Linked DNA regions of Homo sapiens: all the other regions are reported to be linked to region 3. Evidence: microRNA targets listed by miRTarBase, many of them from high-throughput screens and not tested one by one. Region 3 holds a microRNA gene; each other region holds the end of a gene's coding sequence.

Region 1 (7,888 bases), not on the chromosome of region 3:
CCAGGGAGCTGGTTAGGCAGTGGGCGCCCTGCAACTCCGAGGGGGAAGAAGACGGTCCCCGCGAGTTCTTGGCTCTGGTCACCGTCACCGACAAATCGAAGAAAGAAGAGGCAGAGAAGGAGCCAGCTGGGGCCGAATCCATCCGCTTGAACACCAAAGAAGACAAAAATGGTGTCCCCGACTTAGTGGCCCTGCTGGCTGTGAGAGACACCCCGGACGAGGAGCCGGTGGACAGCGACACTTCGGAGAGCGACTCGCAGGAAAGTGGGGACCAAGAAACAGAGGAGTTGGATAATCCTGAGTTCGTGGCCATTGTGGCCTATACCGACCCGTCGGACCCCTGGGCCCGGGAGGAGATGTTGAAAATCGCTTCTGTTATCGAGTCGCTGGGCTGGAGCGACGAGAAAGACAAGCGAGACCCCCTCCGACAGGTCTTGTCCGTCATGTCCAAGGACACTAACGGGACCCGCGTGAAGGTGGAAGAGGCGGGCCGCGAGGTGGACGCCGTGGTCCTGCGCAAGGCCGGGGATGACGGGGACCTCCGGGAGTGCATTTCCACCTTGGCGCAGCCGGATCTCCCTCCCCAGGCGAAGAAGGCTGGGCGTGGCCTCTTCGGGGGCTGGAGCGAGCACCGTGAGGACGAAGGGGGTCTTCTGGAGCTGGTGGCGCTCCTGGCTGCCCAGGACATGGCGGAGGTGATGAAGGAGGAAAAAGAAAACGCCTGGGAAGGCGGGAAGTACAAATACCCCAAAGGCAAACTGGGGGAGGTATTGGCGCTCCTGGCCGCCCGGGAGAACATGGGGTCCAACGAGGGGTCGGAGGAGGCTTCGGACGAACAGTCCGAGGAGGAGTCGGAGGACACCGAGAGCGAGGCGTCGGAGCCGGAGGACAGGGCATCCAGGAAGCCCCGGGCCAAGAGGGCGCGCACGGCCCCCAGGGGCCTGACTCCGGCCGGCGCGCCTCCCACCGCTTCCGGGGCCCGCAAAACCCGCGCGGGCGGCCGAGGCCGAGGCCGGGGCGTCACTCCCGAGAAGAAAGCCGGGAGCCGGGGCTCGGCCCAGGACGACGCCGCAGGAAGCAGGAAGAAGAAGGGGAGCGCGGGCGCCGGGGCCCATGCCAGGGCAGGCGAGGCCAAGGGCCAGGCGCCCACTGGATCCAAGGCCGCGCGCGGGAAGAAGGCCCGTCGGGGCCGGAGGCTGCCCCCTAAATGCCGCTAGTGGCCCCCCAAGAAGCCGCCCAGGCTGCGAGCAGGCCCCGCAGGGCACCCGCCCGCCTGTGGCCCCCGCCCTCCCCTCCCCTCTTCCTGTCCTCCGCAGACGCAATCTCCTCGCTTCACAGCGCGCCCGGGCCGCGTTTTGCCAGCGTCACGTTCCCCTCTCGGGCCCTCGCAGGCCGGGGGCGCCAGCGATCCCGACGGAGGAAGCCCGGATGGGAGGAGGAAAGAGAAGTGGGCGCCCGAGGCAGCAGCGCAGGGCCGAGATGGGGACGCGCCAAGTGGACCAGGATTGGGGGCCCGGGTTGCCCCCGGAGGGGGTGTGTGTGTGGACGCCGGGCACCTGCAGAGGCGAGCAGGGCTCTTCGTGGCGCTCTCGGGGCCTGCGCCTGGCAGGTGCTGTAGGCCGCTGTCGCCCCTACCCCAGTCTGACTGGGCCCTGGGTCTGTGGTGGAGGCTCAGTCACCAGCCGCGCAGCGCGTGTCAGGGCGCAACTCTCAGCCAGGGGAGGCCCCAGCTCCCAGCCAGGGGAAGAGATGATTCCAGAAAGGAAAGTCTGAGAGATAGAAGGCGGTTGGGAAGGGGAGGAGGAGGAAAGGGGAGAGGAACGGTGGGAGAAGGGAAAGAGGAGGAGGAGGGGGAGGGGGGAGCAGAGGGAAGACACATGCCAGCCCTGCCTACTGGGGCGCCCCTGATAACAAAGGAACCAGCCCCAGGCCAAGGCCACCTGCCCCTGACCACAAGTTGAATTTGTCACTCAGACTGCAGTGTTTCCCAACATTCTAATTATTTGCAGAGGTGTTCAATTTGGGGTAATTCACTTAAAATCCAGTTTTGGTTCTTCTGGGCTGAGTGGGCCCTGGCCCCTCCCATAGGCTGTGGCTCCCCTGGGTGCCCCCTCTCCAGTGGAGCTGACCCACCGCTCAGCGCTGGCCTTGCAGCCCTTACTAAAAGACTTGAAAGTCCCTGGGTTCACCCCCTGAGTGAATTAAAGGCCAGAGGGGCCCCGAAGGGCACTGTGAGGGACAGAGGCTCACCTGGGCAGTGCAGAAGCCGGCCGCGTGTCCCTCCTTACAGGGGATGAAATGACCTGGGGAGGAAACCCCAGCCCTGCCCTGGAGGTTCCAGAGTAGGCGGGCCGGTGCTGTGAGGCTTCACAACCTGCTGTCCCAAGCACGCTTGAGTTGTATGTGAGTCTGTGCCGTGCCGTGCCGTATGCTTCAGCTCCTGCAACCCCGGCTGAGCTCGATTTTTACCTAAATATCAGTCTCCACGGGACCCCACCTTCATTCATGCCTTCTTGTCCCTGGGGCAATGTGTGTGCTTCCTCGTCCCAATTTCCATTCCCTGGCAGTGAGGAGCCCATCGTGCCAGGGGGCCCTGCCCCACTTGTCCCTGGGAAGGAATAGGAGGGTTTGGGTGTGACCTCACAGTCCAGACCAGACTGTCCCAGTCCTATGTCAGGGACACCCAGATGTAGAAGCTGACTGAGACCTGCTGCAGGGCGTGGGTGCTCCCCTCTGCTTGGAGGCTGTCCCTGGACAGTGACCCACCCACTGAGGACCAGGCTGGGTGTACCTTGAGCTGGGCACAGCAGCCTGTGGTGTTGCCTGTGGGTGGGGAGGGCCCCAGGTGTGCTTCTCCCGTAGCAGTCCTAGGCTTCTCTCCCTGTGCCCTGTGTCACCTGGATCCTCCAGTAAAGTGAAATTCAGCACTGTACTCTCTCTGTGCTCTGGGCAGTGGGGCAGGCGGGGTGTGGGAGCGTGGGCCACAGATGTCCACGGTCTTGACTGTGGTTTGCCCAGAATACCTGGGAACTGTCCTGTCACTGGTTTACATACACTGTCCTTTGCTGCTTCGGGATCCCTGCCTGGCTCTCCCTACCCCCCAGCATCATCTCACCCCTTGCAGATCTGAGCCAGCTTCCACTCCCACCCCTGATGCCTCCCCACTTCCAGCCTCAGCTCCGAAGCCCCTGGACACCCATGGAGACCCCGCCCAGCCAATCCCCACCCTAGCTTCCACCCAGATACACTCTGCCAGGCCACAGCTGCAGGCACTCTCCCCCCAGCCTCCACCCCTCACCTGTGCCCTGGACCTCAGACTCAGCTTTCCATCCTACCTGAGTTTTCTGCCTCCCTCCATCCTGTGTCCCCCCACCATACATGGCTGCCAGAGACGTCCTCTTAGAAGTCACACCTGGGGTCTGATTGCGTCCCTCGCCTCCCCAGATCCCCCAAGGTCTCCTTCCTGTGCCGTCATATCTGCAGTTCTTAGGACTGTCTAGACATGCTTTGTTCAACTAGGTAATCACACGGGGTAAATTGGATTTAAATGTAATTAAGATTAAATAAAAATACACATGCATGTCCTCAGTCTTCCCAGCCACGTCACAAGTGCTCAAGAGCCACACGTGGCCAGTGGCTACCGCATTGCACGGTGCTGGTGCAGGACATGGCCATCGCATGCAGCTCTCCCTCGCAGCTCAGGTCTACACACTCCACCCCCATCTCACCCTCTGCCTTGTTTCCCACTGCCCTCTCTGTGTCTCCTGTGGCTTCAGCCACCCAGGTCTCTGGGACACACCAGGCATATTCCTGCCTCATGGCCTTTGCACTGCTCTTCCTGCAGCCTGGAGTGCCCTTCCTTGGGCTATAGGCGTGGCTCCAACCTTCATGTCACTCAGACCTTTCTTCAAATGCCACATTCCTAGGGAGGGCTTCCCTGACCACCTATAAAAATGTAACTCTTTGTGGCCGGCCAGGCACGGTGGCTCATGCCTGTAATCCCAGCACTTTGGGAGGCCGAGGAGGGTGGATCACGAGGGCAGGAGTTCAAGACCAGCCTGGCCAAGACGGTGAAACCCCGTCTCTACTAAAAATATAAAAATTAGTCTGGTGTGGTGGTGCACACCTGTAATCCCAGCTACTTGGGAGGCTGAGGCAGAAGAATCGCTTGAACCTGGGAGGCAGAGGTTGCAGTGAGCTGAGATCGTGCCACTGCACTCCAGCCTGGGTGACAGAGCAAGACTCCGTCTCAAAAAAAAAAAAAAAAAAGGAACCCTTTCTGCACTTCCTCCCTTTATTTTTCAGAGCTATGACTGCCCCCTGGCACACCGACTGTACTTGTCAGGGAGGTTAATAGAGGAAATTGGTGACTGGGGTATTGCAATCAGGAAGTGCAAAAACAGGGAGATCGTTTTGTCCCAATATTAGCAATGCAGGGAGCTGCTCCCTCCCGAGGGCTGGAGGAGCCACTTGGGAAAGGCTGGTGATCAGAGCCCTAGTGTAGGACTGCCAAGTTCCACGCACGGGGCCGGCTTGCTTGAGGAGAGACCCGGGAGCCCCTGGTTCACCGCAGTGACCGCCAGCTGCTGCTGCCACCACGGCCTGAGCATTCCCCCAAATGGCGTCCCTTTCCTCCTGCTTTCAAACTCCCCCCAGCGCCCCGTGGGCTTGCAGCAGCAGCAGCCCCTGCAGAGGGCCCTGAGCGGTGGCTGTGGGGACCTATGCGGCATGGGGGCAGGTGGGCGTGGCGGGGAGAGGCGCGGCAGAGCGGCTTAGGGCCAGCTCCGTAGGGAAAAAGTGTGGCTTGGCCTTTCCCCTTCGTGTCCCCAGCCCCAACACCGTGCCTGGCACGCGGCGGCGGCTGTTATTTGTTGAATGACTGACGGTCGGAATGAACCACGCGGACTGGGTGAGTCAGATCCCAGATAGGCCTGGTGGGGAATGTGCTGGAAAGAAACATTGTTTTCATTCCCTCATTCCTGGAGGGAGTGCTCCGGCGGGGATGGGGAGGAGTGTTTGGGGTCGAAGGAGCAGCCGCGTAAAGGCCTTGAGATCCTGCAGGGAAGGGTCCCGGTGCACAGAGACCAGCACAGGCTGCAGCAGCCGGGTCTGTCCCGCGCGTGGAGCCTCTGGCGACGGGTGGAGCGGAGCGCGGTTGCCCCCTCCTGGGAGAGAAGGCGACTGTCTGGGAGGAGCCCTCAGCGCCATCCGCGCAGTCCATGAGATTTATCCAGGGCTGGCGCGTCCCAGGCCCTGTTCTTGGTGCAGGAAACAGGACCCTCCCGCAGGGAGCATGCGGTGGGGAGGCTGGGGTTACGCTCCCTAGATGAGGACGAAATCCATGCATTAGGGGGTGAGACCTGCTGGGGGACAAAAGTCCGGCAAGCAGGGGGCCCGAGGAGGGCCGGGGCAGGAGAGGGTTTGCAGTCGTCATAAACGGGCCTGGGAAAGTGGCCTGGGAAGCCCTCACTGAGAAGGTGACAAGTGTAGTGGCGCGATCACGGCTCACTGCAGCCTCGAATTCCTGGGCTCAAGCGATCCTCCCACCACTTCAGCCTCCCTCTAGAGTAGCTGGGACCACAGGCACGCGCCACCAAGCCTAGCTACTTTTTGCATTTTTTGTAGAGACGGGGTCTCTGAATGTTGCAAAGACCCGAAGGACGTGCGGCCGGCGGTTGCCTGGGGGAAGTCCATGACCGGGGTGTAGGAAGAGCCAGGGCAAAAGCTTCCCAAGCCAAGGGTATGACTGTAGGGGGTTATTAGCGTGTAATTACTGCCCCTCCCATGCCAGGCTAAGTGCTGGTGGAGTGGAGGCAGTGACGCCAAAGAAGGCCGCCTGCCTCCATGGTGGTCGCTGTCTGGCTGGATTTTCACCTGAGGCAGCAAATGAGCATGAAGAGGTCCCTGGAGTAGGGCGTGCAGACTGGCAGGGCCTCAGGGCCTCGTTAAGCGCTGGGGAGCCATGGGAGGGATTTGAACAGGAGAGGGAGAGGTTTATGCTTTAGGTCTGTCGTGTGCAGGGTGCAAGGCTGGAGCAGGAGGAGGCTGGGGCGGGAACCTAGGGGACAGGCCTAAGGCTGGACCGGCGCAGGGTGGTGGGGATGGCAGGAAGTGGTTGAAGAGTTTTCAGGAGCCTGATTTCAGCTGACCAGGTGACTGGCGGGCTGAGGTTGTGTGTGTATGTGTTTGTGTCTCTGTGTGGATCTGGGGGTGGACACATTCGAATGTATATGTCTGTGCGTCTTTATTGGCTCTGTAGAGAGGAGGGCAGGATGAAGGAGGGAAGAGGATGAAGGCAGATTTTCACCCTCATTTCCCAGATAGAGAAACCGAGGCTCAGAGAGGCAAGGAAGGGAGCTGGAACCCACGTTTGTCTTACTCTACGGCTCCCTCGAATAATCGGCCCTCCCGGCCCCAGGGGAGGGACGGAATGGTCCTCCCCCAAGGATGAGGCCAAGGTATCCTGGGGTCCAGACCCCAGACCCTCCCTCACCTCTTCCCTCTCCCCCCTCCCCCGCCACCTCCCCACCGCGAAGAATCCCGGGGTCCAGACCCTTTCCCCTAGAGGCTGAACTTGTCTTGGCCCCTCGGCCTGCTTAAGCGGGAAATGAGCGATCCCCAAACTCTGGGAATGTGGCCACGTCCTAGAACTGCGCCGCAGACGACGACCCTTCCCTTTGCCCCCGCAACCTACGACTCCAGAGCAGGGGAAGAATCCGCGCGAGTTGCGATGCCCGCTGATTCCACCAGGAGGCACCCCAGTTCCGCCGTTTAAAATCGTGGGGCCACGGCGCTTTCCCCAGCGCTTTAAAGGGACAACCCTCCCTGGTCTTTGAACGCCAGGCTGGGGAAAGCGGACTTTCCTGCAGGACAGCGGTTCTCAAAATCAGGTCCTGGACCTGCGTCAACGTCTCCTGGGAACTAGATACACATTCTCGGGCCCACCCTAGACCTACAGAACCCCTTTGGGGGTGAGGTCCAGCAAGCTGCATTTTCAAAGGACCCCCAGGTGCCTGCGATGCGGGACTAGTTTGAGAACCACGGCTGTGGCGTCTGATGGTCTCTAGGACCCCTAGGGTCGCGGTTGTGAGCCCCGGCTGCCCATTGCTTGGAATCACCGGGGAGCTTTAGGGACTGTTGCTGCCCCAGCCGTGCCCTGCACCATTCAGAGATTCCGAGAGCGGCTGCCGAGATCTGCAGGCTGGACATGGGCTCTGGGTCATTCCAGGGGCAGCCGGGGTGGGCACCGCTGCCCTGGGGTCCCTGTCAGGGCTGAGGTGTGCAGTGAAGAGCTGGCCGCCGCTGATACGTAGCAGAAATAAGACGAGATGACCTCACAAACACATCACACCCTCTTCAGTCCCCTGGGCAGTGCTGGCAGGAAAGCTCTGCTGTGATCCCCATTTCCCATGAGGATGTGGAGGCACTGAGAGGTCAAGTAATCAGCCCAAGGTCACACAGCTTGCAAGGGGCAATGCTGGGGGAGTCAGGCAGCGGGGCTCCAAACCCCTCCTCCCATCTCTAACCATTTCCTCTTCTCTTGTCACACCCAGTGAGCCTGGGAGGGGGACCCAGAAAGCCCCCCTCCCCCAACCCCTATCTCAGGGTAGCATCTCTTCCCTTCATGTCTGTGTTCTGGAATCACCTGTGGCCTCTCATTTTTCTCTTTAGTGACAGTGAGGGGTGGCTGGACTGGTCCAGATGAAGGCTGATTTGGAGTCAAATCTCTGGTTTTCTGGGGCGTTTGAAACCATACCCCAGAGGCATCAACTGGCTACCTCAGGGGAACTGGCCCTGCAGGCTCCATTTGAAACCCCCTTGATTTGAAAATATTGACGCCTCTGTTCGCATCTCATCTCAAGTTACCCAAGGGCTCCTTGCACCCCTG
Region 2 (7,888 bases), not on the chromosome of region 3:
TTGAAAAAGACAAGCAAGGGAAACATGATACTAACTTGATTTGTTATAAAGCTTTTCATATGACAAAGGGAATTCCTTTGTCAACCTTCGTTTGAGTCATACAGTTTTCTAGGCAAAGGCTACATTATGTCACATTTATTGTTTATATGTACAACCTTTACTTGGCACCAGATCGAGCGGAAGTGGGTATACAAAAGTAGAAGTGGGTTTCAGAGAAGGAGCATACTTATCTGACAACTTCTGATATCTTTCACATGCAGTTATAAGGCTAAGAAATACCACTATTGGCCGGGTGCAGTGGCTCACGCCTGTAATCCTAGCACTTTGGGAGGCCGAGGTGGGCAGATTGCTCAAGCTCAGGAGTTCGAGACCAGCCTGGGCAGTGTGACGAAAGCCCATCTTTACAAAAAATACAAAAATTAGCCAGGGGTGGTGGCATGTCCGTGGTCCCAACTACTTGCGGGATTGTGGCGGGAAGGATCACTTGAGCTCTGGAGGTCAAGGCTGCAGTGAGCTGTGTTTGCACCATTGCCCTCCAGCCTGAGTGACAGAGTGAAACCCTATCTTAAAAAAGAAAGCAAAAAGAAATAACCACTATTTAGCAGATCTCTTTTGGAGGAAGATAAAAGCTTGTAAAACCATTTATCTTTGGAGGAAGAGAAGTACAAGAATATTGATTAGGTAGATGCAAAATTATAATAACCTTTTTTCTCTTCAAAGATACCAAACCTGGCTAAAAAACTTGAAGAAATTAAAAAGGACTTGGATGCCAAGAAGAAACCCCCTAGTGCATGAGACTGCCTCCAGCACTGCCTTCAGGATATACTGATTCTACTGCTCTTGAGGGCCTCGTTTACTATCTGAACCAAAAGCTTTTGTTTTCGTCTCCAGCCTCAGCACTTCTCTTCTTTGCTAGACCCTGTGTTTTTTGCTTTAAAGCAAGCAAAATGGGGCCCCAATTTGAGAACTACCCGACATTTCCAACATACTCACCTCTTCCCATAATCCCTTTCCAACTGCATGGGAGGTTCTAAGACTGGAATTATGGTGCTAGATTAGTAAACATGACTTTTAATGAGTAGTGTCTTCTTTATCGTTTGCGATTTTTACTACCTTTTTTCAAAAGAAAAATTGATGAGTTTTGTATAGCTGGTCAGATACAAATAATAGTGACTTCACAGTTTAGTAATTATAATGGGTACTTGTTAAACATTTGGTACTAAATTATGTTGCTGCAAAGTAATTAAAATTAGTATCTAGAGCTAGTTTCTGGTGAATTATTCATTTATTTTGTACTGTTGTTAGGCAGCTCTGTAGTTGCTAATTTAACCAATAAGTCAATTTGCTATTCATGAAGAAACGATTCTGAGAATCCTGTCAGGAATTGGGGAATGAAAAAATACACAAAATAATGGTCTTTGTCCCAGTAGAGTTCATAGTCTATTTAGTGTGCATGTTTTTCCTTAATGATGTATTTGATCTGACTTTTTTCCTTCTCAAAAGAATCATACTTGGGATTACAGGTACATTTGATGTTATATGATGGATAAGTGAAAAGTTTTTAAAGGAGATTTTATACCTTTTCACATTAAAAAAGGTATTTATATTATTACTTTGTAGTGATTGTCTTAAGAAAAAATATAGCCCAAATGTATAGTAAAATCAGCAGCTCAAGAAGAATTTCTGCTTCTCTTTGTAGTTGATGCTTTGTTTTTTCCTGCAGTCAGAAATTCCTTGTATTTGTCAAATGTATAATCAGCTTGTATTGTTTTTAAATTAAAAAAAAATTTGAATAATTAACTTTTGCCATGGGACAAGATACAAAAGTAATTTCATATAAAGGGCCTCTCCCACCCCTGTTCTCTGGCTCCTGGCTCCTGTTTGACAAGTTACTGTTACCACTTCGCCTTATACTTTTGAGAAAGAGTCTGTGCCTAAACAAACACGTGTAACACAAATAGTAACTATACATGGAGGTCTAGCCCTCGCCTTTTTTTTTTCTTTTTTTCTTTTTTAATGGAGATCATTCTATACCAGCATGTAAGTAGCAAGGAACCTCATTCTTTTTTTGGCTGCCTAAAATTTTTTTGAATAGATATAACATAATTGATTTAATCTGCTACTGGTGAATGCTTAGGTTGTTCTTTTGCTATTACAGTGATAACTTCAATCCTAATGTTATTAAGCATATCGATTCAGGGTATAGCTATAAGATGAAGTCCTAAAAGTATAATTTAGACTAAATACAAATACCCATTTCGCTAGCTGTTTTGTTTCAGAGGACTTGTTGAGCAGCTTCACTAATAATGCCATTTTTGAAGACATGGCAGGTTCAGAATCAATAAACTGGAAGAATTGTTCAGAGCATCTTTTTTCAGACAGTGATGACATTGATTCTGTATATGATAAAGTGATTCTGCTTCTCTTTGACAACTTGCATCTCTCCTACATGGAAGTAAGTTTTATTCCTGTCAATGTTGTCTTTGTGTGTGACAGATTAGGATTAAATTATGGTTTGACTTTTCCTAGCAGCGTGATCATGGGCAAGTGGCTTTTTTTTTTTTTTTTTTTTGAGACAGAGTCTCACTCTGCTGCCCAGGCTGGAGTGCAGTGGCACAGTCTTGGCTCACTGCAACTCCTGCCTCCCGGTCCAAGTGATTCTCGTGCTGCAGCTTCTCAAGTAGCTGGCATCACCACCACACCTGGCTAATTTTTGTATTTTTAGTAACGACGAGGTTTCACCATGTTGGCAAAGCTGGTCTCAAATTCCTGGCCTCAAGTGATCTGCCCACTTCAGCCTCCCAAAGTGTTGGGATTACAGGCGTGAGCCACTGCGCCCAGCTTTTTTAAACTTTTAGATTCATTTAATAGGTAAATTGCATGTCACGGGTTTGTAGCTTATTCTTTCAGAAACTCTTGCATTATCTGTAGACGTGGACGTAAATATCCACCTCATAGGGTTTTCATAAAAAATAATTGAGATAATGTATGTAATGTTTCACAGTGCTTTGCAGACTATCTAATAAATAGTAGCTATTAGTACAAACTTGTTGCTTTTTGGCTAGTTCTGCAGTCACTTTTGGAATCAGTTTATGAACCACACAAAAAGTTTGTCATTATTCTGTAGTCGCTGTTTTTGATACTGATGAAAATTTACAGTATCCACCTGGATTGTACCATCTGGCTCACAAGATTTGATCTTGAATTGTTAGCACAATGAACTACAGCCTCAAAGGATGAAAGTTTACCTTGCGGGTATTAAAAATGCTAGAAGCTTAGAAAGCTGTTTCCAAAGAGGGATTCCTTGTTACCAACCATGATAGCATTGCTGTGGTGTGTGTGGTCTCCCAGAGTGGCTGCTTTGGGATTGGAGGTCACTTAGCTATTAGAAGGATAGGTCTCTTTATATTATACCTTGTAAACAAGGCTCATTTGGACTTAGGGCTTCCTTTAGAGGTGACACTTAACCTTGGCAAGGGGATCATTTCTACCAGTGGGATCCATCTAGCAGATCAGTTCTTAAATTCGGCTTCATCATGTAAACTGCTACACAGTGCAGGCTGACTTTGCATTCACCATTCAGATACCCTCTCCTAGTTTTATGTTCTTGGCAGCAGTGAAAAGGACCTCAGAGTTCTCAGGCAAGATGATCTTCACTGAGCTATATGTTGGAGGAGCCCAGAACCATCATAGTTTTAGGGTGTAGTTGAAAATCCTTACTGTGAATGGGGTTTATGGCACTGAAAGTTACCCCTTCCCTGGGAATTTTGTAGGAACCCTTGCCACACAGATCAATGGAGTGGTGGGAAGAAGCACCACAAGACAGGCCTTTTTTTTTTCCTTTAAAAAATGTTTGAAAGCTCCTACTAATATGGTTAGGAAAACTTCTGCCACATCTGACCATAAAATGAGAGTTGCTCAAAATACTAGTGCAGATTACTCTGACATGTGAAATACAAGACTTCAGGATTGATGCTAGAAAAATACAGTGAACTTGAAAAGCTTATCCCTAAACTGTAATCCTCCCAAACAAAACAAAAACAAAGCAAGAAAAAAAGCCTTATTTAAAATTGTCAAAAGAGGCTGAATTTTATGAAGTTACCAAAAGTATATCTTTAGACTTTTCTTCTGATTTGGTATTTTATGTATTTAAGCAGTTACCTGATTCTGATTTAAAGGAGCAATTTTATTTCTCTTTTTCTAACTCATTTACCCAATGAGTTTGTGTGACTATAGAGAAAAGTAGGCTGTGTGGTTTTTCTAGTTGTCTATACACATTGCCTCATAGAGCATATGTACCCATGGTACACATGTGTAATGTTTTCATTTCCACTAACCCGTTCACTCCCTAGATACTATGCTGGTGTTTTTCTGCTGAGGTCTCCCACATTTTTAATGCCTTTTCTGAGTTATTCCTCCTGAAGGAACGTTATATACTGTACTGGAGCAAATGAGGCTTTTCTTAAACTTCCAGTCTTGGGTTTTGCATGTAGCATTTCCATTCCTTACAGATGAATGAGTTCTTTTTTCCCTATTGACTATTAGGGCTTCGCCTTGCGGAAAGGAATAGGGTGGTGAAGGGAAAATATTTTGAGATCTTGCCTGCTCTTAATAGGGAGTTTGTGACACTTAGATTTTCAAGTGTTCATTTTATACCTTTCCCAAATCTGGTTGCAGTGTATTTAGTCAAGCATTGAAGACCTAACATATGGCATGTTTTGCAAGGCACAGGGAAAGAAAAATGAACTGAGAACAGTGAGACCTTGTGGAAGTTCCCAGGGTGGGACGTTGAAACCCTGGGTCCTGGGCCTTCCTGAATCACAGCCTCGGTGGGAGGATTTTATGAAAGGTACAGTGCAGTTGCATCATCTTACACAGTTGTACAGGACTGGGACCAAAAAAGGTGCCATGTAAATAGTGCATGCAATTGTGTTCAGTGTTCGTTCAGTGAGGACAGCCCCACTGAGCTACCTGTGTACTCAGGTGGTCTCGGTTCCCTTTGCGTTCTAATGGTTTGAGTTTCTTGCTGTATTGAGAGTGATTCTAGTGTTTAGAGACTTTTTCAAACATCACGGTCTCCAGATGTGAAGCCAACTACCTCATTTATTGTATGGTTGAACAAACAGATTTGTTCTGATGTTGGAAGGAAAACTAGCTGCTTTTGATTTGTTAAAAGATGGTACATGAGTGTTTGTGATATGTAAATACTAATGTGAAAGATTGTATACCATGTACTTAATGTCTGACTTAGTGGAATTTCAAAGGCAACTTTGACTAAGCAAATTTGATAAAGAATTGGTTTAAGAATAAGATGCAACTATACTTAGTGACTTTGGCTCACAGTTTCATCATCCATAAAATATTAGAAGATAAAATTAAATTATATTTGCAAGAGACACAAGACTATTAAGGAGGGCTAGAAGTTATCCAACAGTGGAGTGATTTAGATGACAAGGAGTTATTAATCATATTTGCCATTTCCTGTCACTGGAATGGGTAACCTTGCTTGGCTTGAATCTCCAGTTCTGGGAAAGAACAGTGCTGTGCTTGAGAGCAGTTTAGTAGACCAGACTGAAATAAACGCTCTTTCTAAATTGGCTAGTTGAATGCATTCACTACTCGGAACACCTGGCAGCAGTTGCTGGCACAGCTTTCCCTTCAGGAGTGAGTCAGGTTCTCACATAGTTGAATACTGGCCAGTAATTCTAAGTCCACTTAATTCTAAATCAACTTTTCTTTCTCTTTTTACTTATACTCCCAGAATCTTACAGATTGCACCTTTGTCCTATTGTCTGACTTAGGGGCAAAGGATCTGTGTTCTGTGATGGTTCATAAATGTGATGTTTGGCTGCTCTGATAATAAGAGTAATACCCTGACTCTTGAAAATTTAAAGCAAATGACTTTAGAGATGTTGGCTGGATCAAATCAGCTGTAGCGTACCTAACATTGGTATTTCATTTGGGCTTGTGAGGTCTTAACTATTATATTGGACAAATAATTTTGGTCTAACTCACAGGGCAGAAGCACTGATGTTCCCATTAACCATGGTCAGTCACATTCTGTGGTTGAAGCACATGTTTGTGGTGGTTTCTTTTGCTCCAAAAGAAATTTTACAACTCACAGATGCTTGATCAATTAAGGGAGTGATTTTATAGATAAATTATTGTGGGAAAACAGCACGTGCTATCAGTAGTAACTTAAAATCACTTAAAACAGTGCAGTAATTGTAGGGGACTCCCTTTCCCCTAAGATATATTTAGCAAACAACTGATGGGAGAAATAAAAAATATGTAACACTAACAAACTAGAGGGATTGAGAGCTATCTCCAGTCATGTAGCAAGGATATCTATCATGGAGAAAACGGCATGGTCTTCAGGAGGAGAAAGAAGCCTTGATTTCCAGACAGTTGTTTTCTCATGGGACACGTTTATTGAGCATTTACAGCTTACCACATTGTAGAAGTTGCTGGGGGATTTCAAGAGCCATAGACAGCTCTTCTCCCTCAAGGGGCTCATGTAGGGATGTGTAGGAAGTGACAGATGTGTTTGGACCTTTGGCTACTACCTAATACTTTGTTTTCTCAGGAACAAACTACTTATTAAATCCAGAAGCAAGCCAGTCTAATATAATAATAATGCTGTGGTCTTAATTATAGTTTTGGTTTCCCTTATAAGACACATAGGAAAGTTTTCCCTCCCTCCCAAAACTTAACCAAGGCAATAGTATTTCTGGTTAGTGACAGGTGGAGAGAGAGATGTTAATCTCAATGTATCTTCTTTCTTGACTTCCCTTTCCTTTTGAGACGGAGCCTCGCTCTGTCGCCCAGGCTGGAGTGCAGTGGTGCGATCTCAGCTCACTGCAACCTCTGCCTCCTGGGTTCAAGCGATTCTTCTGCCTCAGCCTCCTGAGTAGCTGGGATTACAGGCGTGCACCACCACGCCCGGCTAATTTTTGTATTTTTAGTAGAGTCGGGGTTTCACTCTACTAAAACCCTGTTGGTCAGGCTGGCCTCGAACTCCTGACCTCATGGTCCGCTTGCCTCAGCCTCCCAAAGTGCTGGGATTATAGGCGTGAGCCACCGCGCCCGGCCGACTTCCCTTTCCTTTGACTAATAGAACAACACCAGCCTCTTTCTGAAAGGGAACACTATATGGGAATTTGGTGCCAAGGTAAAGGGGAGCCATTGAGGAGAGATGCTTAAAAGGGAATGAAAGTGGTGATGAAAGAGTACTAATTGCCATGAGGAAGACCTACTAAGAATGCCTTCTTGTGGAGAGAACTTAGGATAGAAGCACTTAAGAGAAAGGAGCTGATGGCCGGGCGTGGTGGCTCACACCTGTAATCCCAGCACTTTGGGAGGCTGAGGCAGGTGGATCACCTGAGGTCAGGAGTTGGAGACCAGCCTGGCCAACATGGTGAAACCCCATCTCTACTAAAAATACAGAAAACCAGCTGGGCGTTGTGGCACATGCCTGTAGTCCCAGCTACTCAGGAGGTTGAGACAGTAGAATCGCTTGAACCTGGGAGTGGAGGTTGCAGTGAGCTGAGATCGTGTCACTGCACTCCAGCCTGGGCAACAGAACGAGACTCCATCTCAAAAAAAAAAAAAAAAAAAAAGAGAGAGAGAGAAAGGAGCTGACATTAGGTTTCGAGGTCTGGGTGAGGTTTCCCACAAAAAAGATGTCACTGGTTTCACTCTGCCTTGGTAGGATGACTTGGGTATCTTTCTACTCCTAAGAAGGTATTAAGAATAACATAAAACCTAGTGAGTTTGCAAGGCTTAGCCTCCGAAGGGTGACTAAGACAGGCTTTCTTTTCCTGTCTTCAGAATGAATGGATTACAAAGACTAGATACAACTTTAGGTTTTCTTTGTCTTCTTTTTTTT
Region 3 (7,888 bases):
TGGCACAGTTTAGTGTCTTCAGAGCAGTGGCTGCAGGCAGTTACCCACAGGATGCAATGGCAAAGAATTATGCAGGCACCTGCCGATGCTGGTTTCCTGGCTGTGAGTCGTACGTACCGTAGTTACGTGAGATGCAATCACCAGGGAGAGCTGGGTGAAGGGGACTTGGGGCTCTCTGTACTATTTTATGCAACTTCCTGTGAGTCTCTATTTAAAAAAAAAAGTTAAAACAAATAAACAGACAAAAAAATCAACATAACAATTGCCCTGTAGGAAGAACATTTTGCGCTGTACCAGTTGCCCTTTCGGAAGGAACACATTCAACAAAACACAATGCACATGGCCCGGGGGAGGAGAGGGCGGGAGAACCTGAGGCTGGAGAGCCTGGGGAGCTCCACCACAGAGGGTCATGGGTTAGTTTCTGGAACAATGGGAGCCGCACTGGGGTCTTAAGCAAGGGAATAACATGATTAGATGTGCATTCTCACAGGTGCTCTCTGGCAACATCCTGAACCTGTACTGGGCAGAAGGAGAGGAGATAAAATGGGATAAAAAGAGGAAAATGCTTTGTAACCTTTAAAGCTACATTCATAGCTAAAGGCGGGGTGAGATTACCCCACAGGCTGTCACACCAAACAAAAGCAAAACAGGGAAACTAACATGAAGGAGGGAATATTTTTGTAAATCATTTGATATTGAAGTCATCATCATGAGAAAACAAATATTTTGTTGGGTTTTCTTCCATTTGCTTTATGGCTAAGTACTATTTTAATTGTGAATTGTAGACAGGTTGAGCAGGGCCCCATAATTTATTTTCAGTGCTTGGGGTCTCTAAGGAGGTAAATGATTGGGTTTTAACTTTTTTTTGAAAAATTATAGAGTTTTTGCTTAAAATCATGTGGGTGTCAGAAGGAAAAAGTTCAGAAGAGATACCAAATCCTGGAAAAAGGAAAAGAACTGTGCCCACCAGGAGACACTGCTACACTCTCTGAAAAGATTTGGGGGTGAAGGGTCAGAATTAAAGTCAGACCTTCTCAGTTCAAGTCGAGTGCCTTCAAAGCCAGCTTTTGCAGGCCTTGGTTAAATGTTAACCCTAAGCAGGAGAGACTAAGTGGGAAAGATTCAACATCAGTTAAGGCAAGACAGTCACTATCCCAAGGAGGGCGAAGCTTATTAGAGACCCGGAGCCATGATAGCACCCGTAAATTACTTAGACGCATGACCAAGGAGTAATCCAATAATCCATTTATGACTTTAAATGAATCTGGCTGCACACTAAACCCCTTCTGAGTTTACAAACGTACAATATTCACAGCCACTGGCCTCCTATCGGCAGGAGGCCATCACGTCCAGCCCAACTTCTGCATGGTGTTCACAGCACAGAAAATTAACCAGAGCCAAGCAGTCAATACCATATTATCCCCTTCACTGCAGTTATTTATTCTATTTGTTGCTCTTCATTTCAAGCCAGCACCAACTGAAAAGATGGCCAGTCCAGCCCCTAAAAACAGACCCTTGCTGCTTTCTATTGAATCATGAAAGTTTAAAAAGGGGAAAACTTACATATGCACTTTGCAATTAAGAAAAAAAAAAGACCATTTGACGGAATTACAGCTGTATTTCCTACATCCATAAAAACCTGGGATTTATTTTGTCCAAAGATCACGGGGTGTGTTTTGGTGAAATATGCAGTTTGGGAAGTCTAGTCTAAATCTAGCAATTCCCAAAATGGTACAGAGATAAATATCTTTTATTTATATTATCATATATTTATTTTAATGCTGGTTAGAAGAAAACACTTATAGTATATCAAACCCTGATGTTTTAAAAATAGTTTTGCTAAATTAAAGAAATGCATCAATTTAAAGGAAAACATGAATTTCTTGCCTACTCTTGACTTTATTGCCCCATCTTCTTCCTCATGACACTCACAGTCATGAACCTGACGGAGGACAACTTCCATTCTCAGGTCCAAGTGTTGTTCTATCTATCCCTTTAAGGCGAATCCAGCTCCCTTTCTAGTGACTGGCTACAGAATGGCTCTGTGCTCTAAATATGACCAGAAAGACAGAGAGGAAAGACAGAGAGGAAATTAATGGCTGGGCTGGCCCTCCTTTGTTTTTGAGAGAAGCCTCTGTAAAGCTGGCCACTCCTTCTAGCCATAAACATATAAACTGTGTACCCTAAATACCAGTGTCATCTCTCCTGTGACCATGAGAACAACCAGTCTTGGGGTGAAGCCAGGATGTCATTAGAGAGACAGAAAGACTTTGATCATTAAGGGGAGCAATAAGCCACTGCATCAATTAACCTGGAAACCACCCTACTTCTGGAGTTGCTTTTTAAGATAATATGTTTCCTTACCATTTAAGGCAGACTGTATTCGTGTTGTTATTACTTGCAGCCCAAAGCATCCTAATTATAAAACGTGAACCTCCAATGATTGGGAAACTCAGGTCTCAATGCTGGATAGGCCCTGAGTCCTGTCTCCTGGGTTCAGGCATCAGGCCAAAAGCTTTGCATCTCAAATCAACAAATACTCTCAAAACAAGGGTGCTACTTCAGTAAATATAGGGGACAAAGAGAGACAAAGGGACTTGGACACTAGGAAGAAAGGGAGGCAAGGGGAGGTACAGAGAAAACCAATGTTCACTCATTCTTGCAAGATGCATTTCACTGCTTATTATGTGTTGAATATCCCATTACAACCTGAAGATATGGAAGGTAATAAGGAAAGGCCCATGTCTTCAAGAAATGACAGAGCAGAGAGAAAGACAGAGGAATGTACAACTAAATATGGTCTGAAAAGTACAATATTCTACAAGGATCAAGAAGGAAATAGGAGAAATTTTTAAGGTTTTTTTTTTTTAATTGGTGCTTAAAACTGAAATCTATGACTGGACTGGTCTCTGATCACTGAGCAGAATTTTATGTGGGGCTCTTATTTTTCTTCTTTCTTCAGGTTGTACCCCACCCTTTTTTCTTTCTTTTTTTTTTTTTTTTTGAAGGACTTAAAAGGCACATCAGTAACATTGGAGGGCAAGTCTAAGAAGTCGGGTAAGGAATGAAAGCATACCCAGGGGAGGGGGTGGAAGGTAGCAGGCTGTTACAGACAGGACGCCCTGGACATCACAGTTTCAAGGCGGTCATTATTTATTTTCCATGTGACCCTACACGTCTCAGTTTTCTCATCTGTAAAATGGGGATGGAACTGCCTTCCCCTCAAGTAGGTCTGAGGCTGAGAGGGAATGATGCTGATGAAAGGTCTTAGTGAATAGCTATAGCTATACCAAATATTTATTTTGGGACTGGGTGTGTTGACTCACACTTGTAATCCCATAACTTTGGGAGACTGAGGCAGGAGGACTGCTTGAGGCCAGGAGTTCGAGGCTGCGGTGAGTTGTGATTGTGCCACTGCACTCCAGCCTGGGCAACAGAGCAAGACCCTGTCTCAAACATAATATAAATTTATTTCTAGAGCTAGCTCCATACAGAATTTCAAAGAACCTTGGGGCACTTGAGTACTGGCATCTATTTGTATACAAAACAGGATGAAACAGGATAAATCATTTCTTTCTCAATTTTTTAATTTTTTTTTTTTGCTGGGGGACAAAGAAGCTTGAACTTCTTATCTATCTACCTATCTATCTATCTATTATTTATTTATTTAGGGCTCACACCAAGCATTGGTTCCTCAGATACAAGTCAAAGATGAGGAAAATGGAGGCATTAAAATATTTGAAATCTGACTACAAAATGGCTGTGTTCTAAACGTCTTTGTTCCTTGAAAATTCATGTGTTGAAATCCTCCTCTTCAGAATGGAGGTCTTAGGAGGTGGTACCTTTGGGAGGTGATGAGGTCACGGGGGTGGAGCCTCATGAATGGGATTAGGGCCCTTATAAAAGGGTCTAGGGAGATTCCTCTCCCCTCCACTGTGAGAGGACATAGGGAGAAGCCCTGTCTATGAACCAGGAAGCCGGCTCTCACCAGATAGTGAATCTGCTGGTGTCCTGATCTTGGATCTCTGGGCTCTGGAACTGCAAGAAACAAATTCCTGTTGTTTAGATGCTTCCCAGTCTCTGGTATTTTGTTAGAGCAACTAGAACAGACTAAGACAGGTGCCAATCATAAAATATCAAATTTCTTCCCATGCTCAGAGTGCCACCAGCCATTTCTCCAATGGCTTGCATTTTCTACTCTTTCCAGAATTAGAGAGGGAGAGGAAGTCAGCTGAAGCCTGAGTCCTGTTAGGGCCACCTTGCTGTGTGAGTCACTGAAGTGTGGTTTTGCTGCTGTTGAGCATTGTTGGCTGGTTTCTGCAGATTTGGTAAGCCCCAGTCTCATTCAAAAGCCCCAAAAGTGAGACGCGTGTCTGGTCTCCTTGCTCCTGTTGGTCTGCTAGGCTTGTTCTACTAGGACACCTTTGGACACCTTCCCATGGGCGGTTCACAGAGGAAGATGCTGAGCTAGGGGTGTCAGGACGCCTCTAGTGAACTGGAAGTAGATCCCATTCCTTCCATTTCTCAAGATGCCTCCTCATCCCCAGTCCCCAAAGTGAATGACTGAAGTTTCTACTGCTCTGCAAAACCCAAGATAGGTCACCATTTTATTCCATTCTGATTCCCCCAGCAGACACAACCACCTGATTCCCCTTCGGAAATATTCTGCACCAAATGAAATCCGAGTGAGGTCATTAATTATGAAAATTCACAATGCGTAATTATAATAATTACTCTGATCACATAAACATTATACCACCATGAATAATTTAATAGGAATTGTGCTTTTGAAAAGCATGGCAATTAAAATAAAACCCAGGGAGGTGACAGAGACGATGCGGGAAATATATGCTCCAGTTTGTTCAGAGGAGGCTGTGCAGTCTCCAGAATGCTCACTCTTTGCCATAAAGAATCACTCTCGACCTTAGGAGGTTGGGAGACAAAGAAGGCAATGAGAGACCTGAGAGTTTACAAATGGGCTCCACTCCTGAGAAGTGGAGATCAAGAGTTCAAAGAGAGGCTGTTTTTCCCCTAAATAAAACAAGTTCAATCATCTTTATCTTTATCCCCCAGCAAAATAAAATAAAATAAAAAATCCTGATTGAAGAAGAAATGATTCATCCTGTCTGGACACCAATTCTCAAGTGCCCCGAGGTTCTTTGAAATTCTGTAAGGAGGTAGCTCTAGAAATAAATACAAGTTTTCTGGCCTCCCGATGGGTGGTGTGTACAACTAAGCAAAACAATCAGGGTGAAGGGATTACATTTTGCACTAAAAAGAAGAAATAAGACCAATTTACCCTGTGACTTTTATTAACCATGACAAAATCTTTTTTAAGTACCTTACTAAGTTTGTGAACAAGCAGCAATTTCTGCAATGAAACGGCCCCCTGAGATTAGGGAATTAAGTTATTTGGAATGGTTGGAAAGGAGAGTTTATACTGTGGAGAGGTGCAAAATGAGACCAGAGGGAGTTTGGACCCAGTTTTTAAAGAGGATCCTCTGTCCTCACTGACAGCAATCCAGGAGACACTACAGGTTCAGATTTGCACACTCCTTACCGTTCACAAAAAGCTGAACTATTATCTTGCTGTCCGGCTTTCAAATTTTTTGAAAATCAAGGTCTACTGTAAGAATCACATTTTACAACACAAGTTGGTGCTCGTGCTTGCATATACACACACACACATACACATACCTACACCAACACACAGAAAACACAGACCTACCATGTGAAATGTGCTCTATTAGGAATAGAATTTCTATGCTATTCTGTTTATGAAAGAAAACTGCTGACAGCAACAGTCTATCAAGTTAATTCCACTGTGTCATGATCCACAGTTCTTATTGTACACTTAACAGACACTTATGAAGTGCCTCATCTAGGTACTAGGGTACCTAGGTACTAAGTACACTTATGAAGTACCTCATCTAGGAATTTAGGTACCTAGGTACTAAGTACACTTAACAGACACTTATGAATACCTCATCTAGGAACTTAGGTACCTAGGTACTAAGTACACTTAACAGACACTTATGAATACCTCATCTAGGTACTAGGGTACCTAGGTACTAAGTACACTTAATAGATATTTACAAAGTACCTGCTGTGTGCCCAGCACTCATCTAGGTACCAGGGTTTCAGTACTGGCAACAGAGACAAAATCTATGCCCACGAGGAGCTTACATTCTACTGGAACAAGTTAGAAAAAACCATTGACAAACCCATTTCTTACAACTGCTGGGTGAGGAAGTTGGGCAGGGATTGTCAAAAACAGGTTCAGGTGGGGAAGTGTGGGCCTGTCTCCCTTGTACACAGCAGGAATCTCAGGGAGGCCGGCTTTGTTTCCAAGGCTTTCCTCTAAGTTTTGCCTTTCATTCTGTTTGACCACGATTCTTTTGACTGCAAGAAACAGAAAGCAAACTTGAATGTGCATAAGAAAAAAGTGATATTTTGTCAGAATTCAGCCAGAAAAACAAAACAAAACAAAATGCTGTAGTTACTGGAACAGAAGGGCTTAAACATAGGAATTGATTACGTAGTGAGGCAAGAGTTATGAAGCAGAGACGGATGGTGAGACACCTAGATACCAGCGACAGGAGGGCACCCCGCAGCCCTAGGGGAGGAGGAACAATGGGTCCCAGGGGGTTTCCAGGGGCCAAGGCCACCCGTGGGGCAGGGTGCAAACCAGGACACAGTGCGCAGAAGCTGCCTCCGGTCAGCCGGGGTTCCTGAGACGCCCTGGCCATCACTGCAGGCAGTCCAGGAAGAAAAGCAAGAAAAGGAGAAAAGCACTGTGGCTTTCCCCACTTCAATCTCCCTCCTGTCTTCTGCCACTGCCTCAGACAGGACTAGAATGTGTCCAGAAGCCAGAAAACAAGGGAACCTGGGAGGTGCAGTTCCCTATAATCCAGAAGTGAGCAGGGGAAACAGGATGGATCTGAGGAAGGAAAGGCAGGCACTCAACCAGCACAGGACTCAACCAGCACAGGTATTGAGTGGGATTGCTCCAGGGCATATCCCTGAGTTACGGGAACAGCAGGACAACTGAGCCTTGGGAAAACAGGAAGCTAAACCAGGGACCCCAATCCCTCCCAGACTCTCCTCCCCCTTTCACCTATTTCTGCTGTTCTGGGAATCCCAGCATCATCTCCTCCCGCAGCAGGTCGGCTGCATTCACACAGTTGGTGCGGGCTGCAGGCAGCTCAGCCCCTCAGTATCAGCCCATCCAGGGGAAAAGGGCACCTGGCACTGTATGGAGATGTTTTGGTTGTCATCAGCGAGGCTGGATGCTGCTGGCATCTAGCGTGTGGGGACAGAAACTCTGCACTATAGGGTGAAAACGGTACCTACACCAGAGGGGAACTGGACTTCAAAGGACTTCATTTGTGTCATGACTCCTGGGAGGTTTGCAACACCTCTATAGATATTTATTTCTTCTTGGATGTACTTGCAGGGGAATTCTGGGATCGCCTTGCAGCTGGCTCAGACCATAAGAATGTCCCTCGAGAATTTGGGGATTCCTGTGCTGCTCGGGTCATCCAGCTCTTTAGAGGCCTAAGAGCTGCAGGACCTCACCTCACCAGGAGGATGGTGCACTCACCTACAGCACGCTCCAGTTCAGTGGCTTTCATTGTGGAAAAGATGTAAACTTCCATTTGGACCAGCAATTCTCAACTGGGAGGGGTGGGATATGTATACATCAGAATTCTGAAATGGGTTTAGCATTAAAATGCATATTCAGTCATTTCTATTATGAAATTGGGAAATCACTTATTTCTTTTTTTTTTTTTTGTTAAATGAGCCACAGAAGGCAAAGTGAATCTATTTGTTGTTCTTTTGGCTTGGAGAATAAAGAACAGGATCTTTAAGGGATCATGTTCTCTCC
Region 4 (7,888 bases), not on the chromosome of region 3:
AAACAGCATGGTACTGGTACCAAAACAGGAGATATAGATCAATGGAACAGAACAGAGCCCTCAGAAATAATACCACACATCTACAACCATCTGATCTTTGACAAACCTGACAAAAACAAGAAATAAGGAAAGGATTCCCTATTTAATAAATGGTGCTGGGAAAACTGGCTAGCCATATGTAGAAAGCTGAAACTGGATCCCTTTCTTACACCTTATACAAAAATTAATTCAAGATGGATTAATGACTTAAATGTTAGACCTAAAACCATAAAAATCCTAGAAGAAAACCTAGGCAATACCATTCAGGACATAGGCATGGGCAAGGACTTCATGTCTAAAACACCAAAAGCGATGGTAACAAAGGCCGAAATTGACAAATGGGATGTTATTAAGCTAAAGAGCTTCTGCACAGCAAAAGAAACTACCTTCAGAGTGAACAGGCAACCTACAGAATGGGAGAATACTCCTATTATTTCTGAAAAAACAAGGCTAGTGAACTTTAGCATAGACTATATTTCTAATATTGTGTTAAAGCCAGGTGCAGTGGTTCATGCCTGTAGTCTCAGCTACTCAAGAGGGTTGGGTGGGAGGATCCCTTGAGCCCTCGAGACCAGCCTGGGCAACATAGATAGACTCCCCCCACATCTCTATTAAAAAGATTATGTTAAAATAATAAGAATAATATGTTATGTAAAGACTAGGGCTTCCAGTGTCAAAGTACAAACCGCTGTCTATTTTTGCTTCTCTTCTAGGCACTGCCTCCTTACCTGTGAGGAATGCAAAATAAAGCATGGATTAAGTGAGAAGGGAGACTCTCAGCCTTCAGCTTCCTAAATTCTGTGTCTGTGACTTTCGAAGTTTTTTAAACCTCTGAATTTGTACACATTTAAAATTTCAAGTGTACTTTAAAATAAAATACTTCTAATGGAACAAAAACATTGTGTCTGTCACTCACTGAAATGTATTCCGTGGAAGGCTTTCAAGTGAACTAAGCGTTACATGTTTTTCTGCTCTTTAAGAACATGTCGGGGCATGGCGCAGTGGCTCATGCCTGTAATCCCAGTACTTTGGGAGGCCGAGGCAGGCAGATCATTTGAGGTCAGGAGTTCATGACCAGCTTGGCCAACATGGTGAAACCCCATCTCTGCTAAAAATATAAAAATTAGCCAGGCGTGGTGGCACATGCCTGTAATCCCAGCTACTGAGAGGGAGGCTGAGGCAGGAGAATCACTTGAACCCAGGAGGCGAAAGTTGCAGCGAGCAGAGATTGTGCCACTGCACTCCAGCCTGGGTGCCAGAGCTAGACTCCATCACACACACACACACACACACACACACACACACACACACACACACACACAACATGTTAGGAATCCTCACACACACACAAATGACATTGCACCCCCACCCCAACTTGCTTACAGCTAAATAAGAGAATTAAGTCTTCTCAGATTAGCCTCTATTCTTTCTTTTACTCTGCTTTTTTTTTCAGTGTTTTAAGTTATCTGATAGAGAATTGGAATTAATGTTGAAGAAGTTAGGAAGTCATGACCCCAAGAAAATTAATGTGTATGGAGATAGAAACAGGACAAGACTGACTTACAGGTATGAGAAGGGCTTCCTAAAATGTAGGGGCAACATTTTTAACTTAGTGAAAAGTGTTTTGTTGGAAAGGGTCAAAATATGAATCAACTATCCTTTCAGTGCTCCAGGTGACCTTATGGTTCAACAGTATGGTTCAACAGTGGAGTTTTGGAAGTGACCATTGTCTTTTTTTGTTTTTGTTTTTGTTTTTGTTTTGGTTTTTGTTTTGGTTTTTGTTTTGGTTTTTGTTTTTGTTTTGAGACAGGGTCTTGCTCTGTCACCCAGACTGGAGTGCAATGGCATGATCATAGCTCACTGCAGCTTCGACCTCCCAGGTTCAAGCCACCCTCCCACCTCACCCTCCCAAGTAGCTGGGATTACAGGTGTGTGCCATCATGCCCACTATTTTTGTAGTTTTTGTAGAGGGGGGGTTTTGCCATGTTTCCCAGACTGGTGTTGAACTCCTGAGCTCAAGCAATCCACCTACCTCTGCCTCCCAAAGTGCTAGAATTATAGGTGTGAGCCACCATGCCTGGCCTCTTTGTCTTTAGGTTATCTGCTTAGCAAATGGGCACATGCTTATGGGCAGCCCTCAAGAATGGGGTTCTTTCATATACTACTAGTGGCCTGAAACAAGAAACACAACTTCCCAAATTGTCTCTCATTTTCCCCAAGGAACAACTTATTTATGGGAGGAATCACTGGAATAATTAATACATGGAATGATAAATTTAGAATTCTAGGGAGTTCAGAGGCAGCCAATGCAACTCCAGGGGTTGGACTCCTATTCTCCTGTCAGATTTGTTGCATGAAAACAACAATAACAAAATCTGGCCAAGTGCAGTGGCTCACACCTGTAATCCTAACACTTTGGGAGGCCAAGGCGGGCAGATCACTGGAGGAGTTTGAGACCAGCCTGGCCAACATGGTAAAATGCTGTCTCTACTAAAAATACAAAAATTAATCGGGCATGGTGGTGCATGCCTGTAATCCCAGCTACTGGGGAGACTGAGGCACGAGAATCTCTTGAATTGGAGAGGTGGAGGTTGCAGTGAGCCAAGATAGTGCCACTGCACTCCACTCTGGGCAACAGAGTGAGACTCTGTCTAAAAAAAAAAAAAAAAATTAAGAAAGAAAGGAAAAAAAAAGAAACCCTTCCATGTGGGAACCTTTTGTTTTATGTATGACAGGTTGTCTGAGCCCTACAGAAAAACTACTCTTGCATCTTTGCAACTTCTCAGAAGAATGCTTTATATATGTATCATCATTTATATCAATATATAGGCAAGGTGCAGTGGCTCACACCTGTAATCCCAGCACTTTGGGAGGCTAAGGTAGGTAGATCACTTGAGGTCAGGAGTTTGAGACCAGCCTGGCCAATATGATGAAACCCCACCTCTACTAAAAATGCAAAAATAGCCCGGTGTGGTGGCACATGCCTGTAGTCGCAGGTACTCAGGAGGCTAAGGCAGGAGAATTGCTTGAACCCGGGAGATGGAAGTTGCAGCGAGCAGAGATTGTGCCACTGCACTCCAGCCTGGGTGACAGAGCGAGACTCTATCTCAAAAAAAAAATATATATATATATAGATAGATAGATAGATGATAGATAGATAGATAGATAGATACATAGATAGATACATAGATAGATAGATATATAAGAGGTTTGTGTATGTACACATTTGGGTTTTACTTAATACATCTTGAACATGTATCATGGAAGTTAAAAGAGAAACTTCATTAAAAGTTAATCGTTTACATGAAATATTTTATTTTAAACATCAAATTATACAGAAGTTTTAATTTTTACATGAACATTAAGAGTAAGCCTCTTTTTATATTACGTATGCTATTTTTTCAGTCCATAAAGTTTTATTTCTGTAAATCAGAATGCAAAGCCAATATCCTATCATCTTAAATGCAAGTTTAACTCTTGTCTCTGATAACTAGCAGTTGGTGACTCTTTGTTATCTCAGCTATTGGCAAAAATTCAGAATTGGGCACATTTATTTCCTACTCCCCAGAAAATGATTTCCTAGGGATCAGAACATTTCACATTGCTTAGCACAGCAAGTCAATGTAAAAAATCTATCCCAAGGTACTGGGGAAAGATACATTTATTTTATTTATTTTTATTTTTATTTTTATTTTTTTTTTATTTTTTTGAGACGGAGTCTTGCTCTGTCACCCAGGCTGGAGTGCAGTGGTGCGATCTCGGCCAACTGCCTCCCGGGTTCATGCCATTCTCCTACCTCAGCCTCTTAAGTAACTGGGACTATAGTCACCCGCCCCCAAGCCTGGCTAAGTTTTTGTATTTTTAGTAGAGATGGGGTTTCACCGTATTAGCCAGGATAGTCTCCATCTCCTGACCTCGTGATCCACCTGCCTCAGCCTCCCAAAGTGCTGGGCCACTGGGGTGAGCCACTGCACCTGGCCAATACATTTATTATTGTTGAAAGGAGCATTGTTTTTACAGATGACATCTTCATAGTTCTTCTCAATCAAATTGGGTTTATTGCTTGGGCTTTCTACATTTCCTACGTAGAGAAGTTATTCATTGAAGCAGTTTATCATGACGATCTATCTTAGAGTGAAAGAAAATCAATAAGGAAAAAACTGGAAGTTCATCCAAGAGGCTTTGATTATTCTGCTGCTATTTTTTTGGGTTTCTTGTTCGTTTGTTTTGTTTTGTTTTGCTTGTCTGTCGCCCAGGTGGACTTCAGTGGCACAATCTTGACTCACTGCAACCTCTGCCTCCCAGGTTCAAGTGATTCTCCTGTCTCAGACTCCTCAGTAGCTGAGATTACAGGCATGCACCACCACGGCTGGCTAAATTTTTGGCATTTTTAGTGGAGACAAGGTTTCACCATGTTGGCCAGGCTGGTCTCAAACTCCTGACCTCAAGGGTTCCACCTGCCTCAGCCTCCCAAAGTGCTAGGATTACAGGCATGAGGCACCGCACCCAGCTGCCTATCTATTGTACATATTAGAAAGCTAGTACCTGGGGGAGAATGTCTGTTTCTTGTGTTAAAGGAACAGCACCTGCCTTTTGACATTTCACCATTACCAACACTCATCACAAAGCTGGTCACAAGCTTATGAAAGCAGTACCTTCATGATAAAAAAAAAAAAAGAAAAAAACTTGGAAAAGAACAGCAAGATAAAATCGTAGATAGACTCACGTGAAAGAAAGAACTGATGAGACTACACGGTAGTAAAAGTTGGATGTCTAACCAATTTTATTGGCAAACTTTCCCTAGGATGATATGGACTGATATTCTACAGTGACGAGAATGCAAACCTTCCCATTATTTTGAATTTGATTAATGGAATTTAAAATGTAACATTAGTTTGTCCACGGATGCACCTGTAAGAAGAGACAAACTTGATATCTGAAATCAGCAAACCTTGTCTAACACATTTGTAGTTCCTCTAGACAACATAATAAAATGTTTTTAACAGCGGGTAATGACACTAATGAAAATAAGGAAGATCCTTACTCGACCAGAAAAGATCAAAATGATTTCCTTAATTCCATGCACCTCCATGGCACTCCAGTGATGCCTAGAAGTGTGTTTCTTTCTTGGCTTACATACAAGTGGATGACTAGAAAGGATGCTTTCAAGATATTTTTAGTTTCAAAGGCATTAACCAAACATTCCACCATTAGCTATGGTGATCATTTGTTCTAAATTTTGCCTCAGTTTGTGTGATCCTGGAGTTCAAAAGTTATTACTATAAACTGTATTCTAATGAAATGTATGTTTTATAATTTAAAAAATAGTGGAATAATCCTTTTGTGTTTGTTTCTCTTATTAAAATAGATCAGTTTCCAGAAAGACTCATATGTTATAGATATTATACTGTATATTATTACATATATAAATATGTAGCATATAATATACTGTATATAATGCTTATTATATATTTTAAAATTCTCATTTAAACAAAGATATTCTCTTCCTTTGCTGTCAGAATGGTTTGTCTAGTTTAACATTATGAAAGTAATAAAAATGTATCTTGCGTGATTTGATTAAGTAATAGCAATAAAAATGTATCTTGAATGATTTGATTAAGTAATGAAATGTAATGCAAATGTTGTGTAGGCAATTTTCTTGATATTCAAACAATGCAAACTGTTAATTGACAGAAAACCTCTCCATTTTGGAACTCTGCTCCCAAATTTCAACTATAAAATTCAGTTTTGTAGACACTTGGAGTTGGCAGAGATTTCAGTGATTAACTCAGAGGCTGCAAAGAACAGGACCAGACGGACAATGTAATTGAGTGAAGCTGAGCTAGTGGCATATTAAACAAAGGTGTATTCTTCACTTCCGTACACAAAAATAGATAAGCCCACTGTTGCCAAATCTTCCACTTGTTCAATATTCAGTGCAAGCAAATGCAGGTTTTTATGTGAAATCTCCCGGTTTTAAAATATTCACATTCTTTCATATATTTAAATATTGAGCACTCATTCTGTACTAGGAACTGTCCTAGGTCCTAGGAATATAGCAGTGAATACAACCAACAAAAATCTCATCCTCCTGGAGCTTATATTCTCATCACCAGTTCTTGGCTTGGGATCCAATCCAACCCCAACCCCGCCCCCCCACAACCGGCAGCACTCACTGTGGAAGTCTCCTCCGTACTGTCCCAGGAGGTGAGATTTCAGGACCCCCCACATACATACTTCCGAGGGAAGGACACCTACTGCTCAACAATGCAGCCCAGTACACTGCCCAGCTGTTAAATTCTTCAGAAAGTCTTATGGGGAGCCCAAGTTTGCTTCCCTCCTGTTCTAAACTGGAAATTCCTCCAAGATAGACAGTGTACTCATTTTTTCTTATCTCTGAATCCTCAAGCAGCATACTTGCAGAGATGGGCATTTCATAAATGCTTTTCAGCTTAAACCTGTAATTTGCCGGTGGCTACAAAATACAATTCTCATTCCTCTTTTACAAAATAGCATTGAAATACTGGAAAGCATGCTTCCTGGAATTTGGCTAAAGGGCCCTAGTTTTATTTACCATTGGAGTGGGTTTCCAACCCTGTCACAACCTGGTCTTGGGATAGCTTTCGGCCTGTGGTGTCCTCATACACAAAAACTCCAAAAATGGATTGACCAGTTCAGAAAAGGGCAGGATTATTATAATTTTTGCTTTAGGGACCGGAACTGTTAGCAAGAGAGGCTCTGCATCAGGCCCTGTGCTTCAAATCCAGGCTTCACCACTTACTATCTACTTGACTTTGGGTTATTATTTATCTGCTCCAGGACTCAGTTTCCTCATCTGTAAAATGGAAATAATATTAGACTTACCTGATAGGTTTCTCAAGAGAATTAAATGGGCTGATACTTACAAATTACTTAGAATAGTGCCTGGCTCAGAGTAACCACTCAATGGATGTTAGTTATTACTACTACTACTATTACTGAAATTTAAGAATACATAATTAGATTGCATAGTAGATTGTTACTGGCCCTAATTATTAATACTTACCTCTCCTATACCCATGCCTTTTGTCATGCAATTTTGCATTACCTTCCTACTGTGAACAGGGGCATATTTACCTATCTTCTTGACCTTCAGCTTGTGGATATGACTTTAGGCAAAATATAAGCCCAAAATGAAGGTGTGCTGAAGTTCCAAATTTAGGCTTAAAGAGGCCTTTTCTGTTTCCATTTCTGTCTCTATCATGGCCATAAGAAAAACATGCCCAATACTAGATACAAAAGCAATAGCCTGAATGCTGATCCATCAGCTGTTGCCTAAGGTCTAATCCCTGTAATAAATCCCTTACTCTATATCATTGATAGCAGTTCTGCTTTTCTATAAAATCTTAATTAAAAAATGTGGTAGGAGGGCAGAGCAAGACGGCGAATAGAAGGCTCCACTGATCATCCTCTCATCACAGGAACACCAAATGTAATAACTATCTACACAAAAAAAGCATCTTCATAAGAACCAAAAATCAGGTGAGCACTCATAATACCTAGTTTTAACTTCATATCGCTGAAAGAGGCACTGAAGAAAGATGAAAGATAGTCTTGAATTGCCATTGCCACCCCTCTCCTATACCCCTGAACCATCTGCATGGCACAGAGAGAAAATCTGTGTGCTTGGGAGAGGGAGAGCACAACTGTGAGACTTTGCATTAAACTCAGAGCTGCTCTGTCACAGCGGGAATTGACTGAACTCAGCTGATGCCTGCCCATGGAGGTAGCACTTAGACCATCCCTAGTCAGAAGGGAATCATCCAAACAAGCAGAGTTCCAGCAAGCCTTCCCACCATGGGCTGAAGTG

Evidence for each region. Region 3 holds the annotated microRNA hsa-miR-3612 (AGGAGGCAUCUUGAGAAAUGGA, at 4,517-4,538, opposite strand). A microRNA usually pairs through its seed, bases 2 to 8, with sites in the 3' UTR of a target mRNA and lowers its output. Matches are read on the target gene's strand: a 7mer-m8 pairs with bases 2 to 8, a 7mer-A1 pairs with bases 2 to 7 and ends in A, and an 8mer does both.
Region 1: the mRNA of PNMA8B is a reported target of hsa-miR-3612. Seed matches in the 3' UTR shown: 7mer-m8 at 3,155-3,161, 7mer-A1 at 3,284-3,290 and 7mer-m8 at 3,346-3,352.
Region 2: miRTarBase lists STMP1 as a target of hsa-miR-3612. Seed matches in the 3' UTR shown: 8mer at 799-806 and 7mer-m8 at 2,640-2,646.
Region 4: the mRNA of OCIAD2 is a reported target of hsa-miR-3612. The part of its 3' UTR that is shown has no 7-base or 8-base seed match.

Annotation. Positions count from the first base shown.
Region 1 is chr19:46,486,887-46,494,774 of GRCh38, reverse strand. PNMA8B (PNMA family member 8B) reads left to right here. Exons shown (of 1, transcript NM_020709.3): 1 at 1-3,584. The coding sequence ends at 1,217. Among named protein-coding and RNA genes, the nearest start is that of PNMA8B, 5.0 kb to the left of the region's middle.
Region 2 is chr7:135,673,371-135,681,258 of GRCh38, forward strand. STMP1 (short transmembrane mitochondrial protein 1) reads left to right here. Exons shown (of 3, transcript NM_001130929.2): 3 at 721-3,046. The coding sequence ends at 795. It overlaps SLC13A4 (solute carrier family 13 member 4), which reads right to left. Exons shown (of 16, transcript NM_001318192.2): 16 at 7,861-7,888. Among named protein-coding and RNA genes, the nearest start is that of STMP1, 15 kb to the left of the region's middle.
Region 3 is chr12:128,290,755-128,298,642 of GRCh38, reverse strand. MIR3612 (microRNA 3612) reads right to left here and starts at 4,551; the gene lies at 4,465-4,551. The region is part of intron 1 of TMEM132C (transmembrane protein 132C); the gene reads right to left.
Region 4 is chr4:48,878,430-48,886,317 of GRCh38, reverse strand. OCIAD2 (OCIA domain containing 2) reads left to right here. Exons shown (of 7, transcript NM_001014446.3): 7 at 753-1,299. The coding sequence ends at 834. Among named protein-coding and RNA genes, the nearest start is that of OCIAD1-AS1, 22 kb to the right of the region's middle.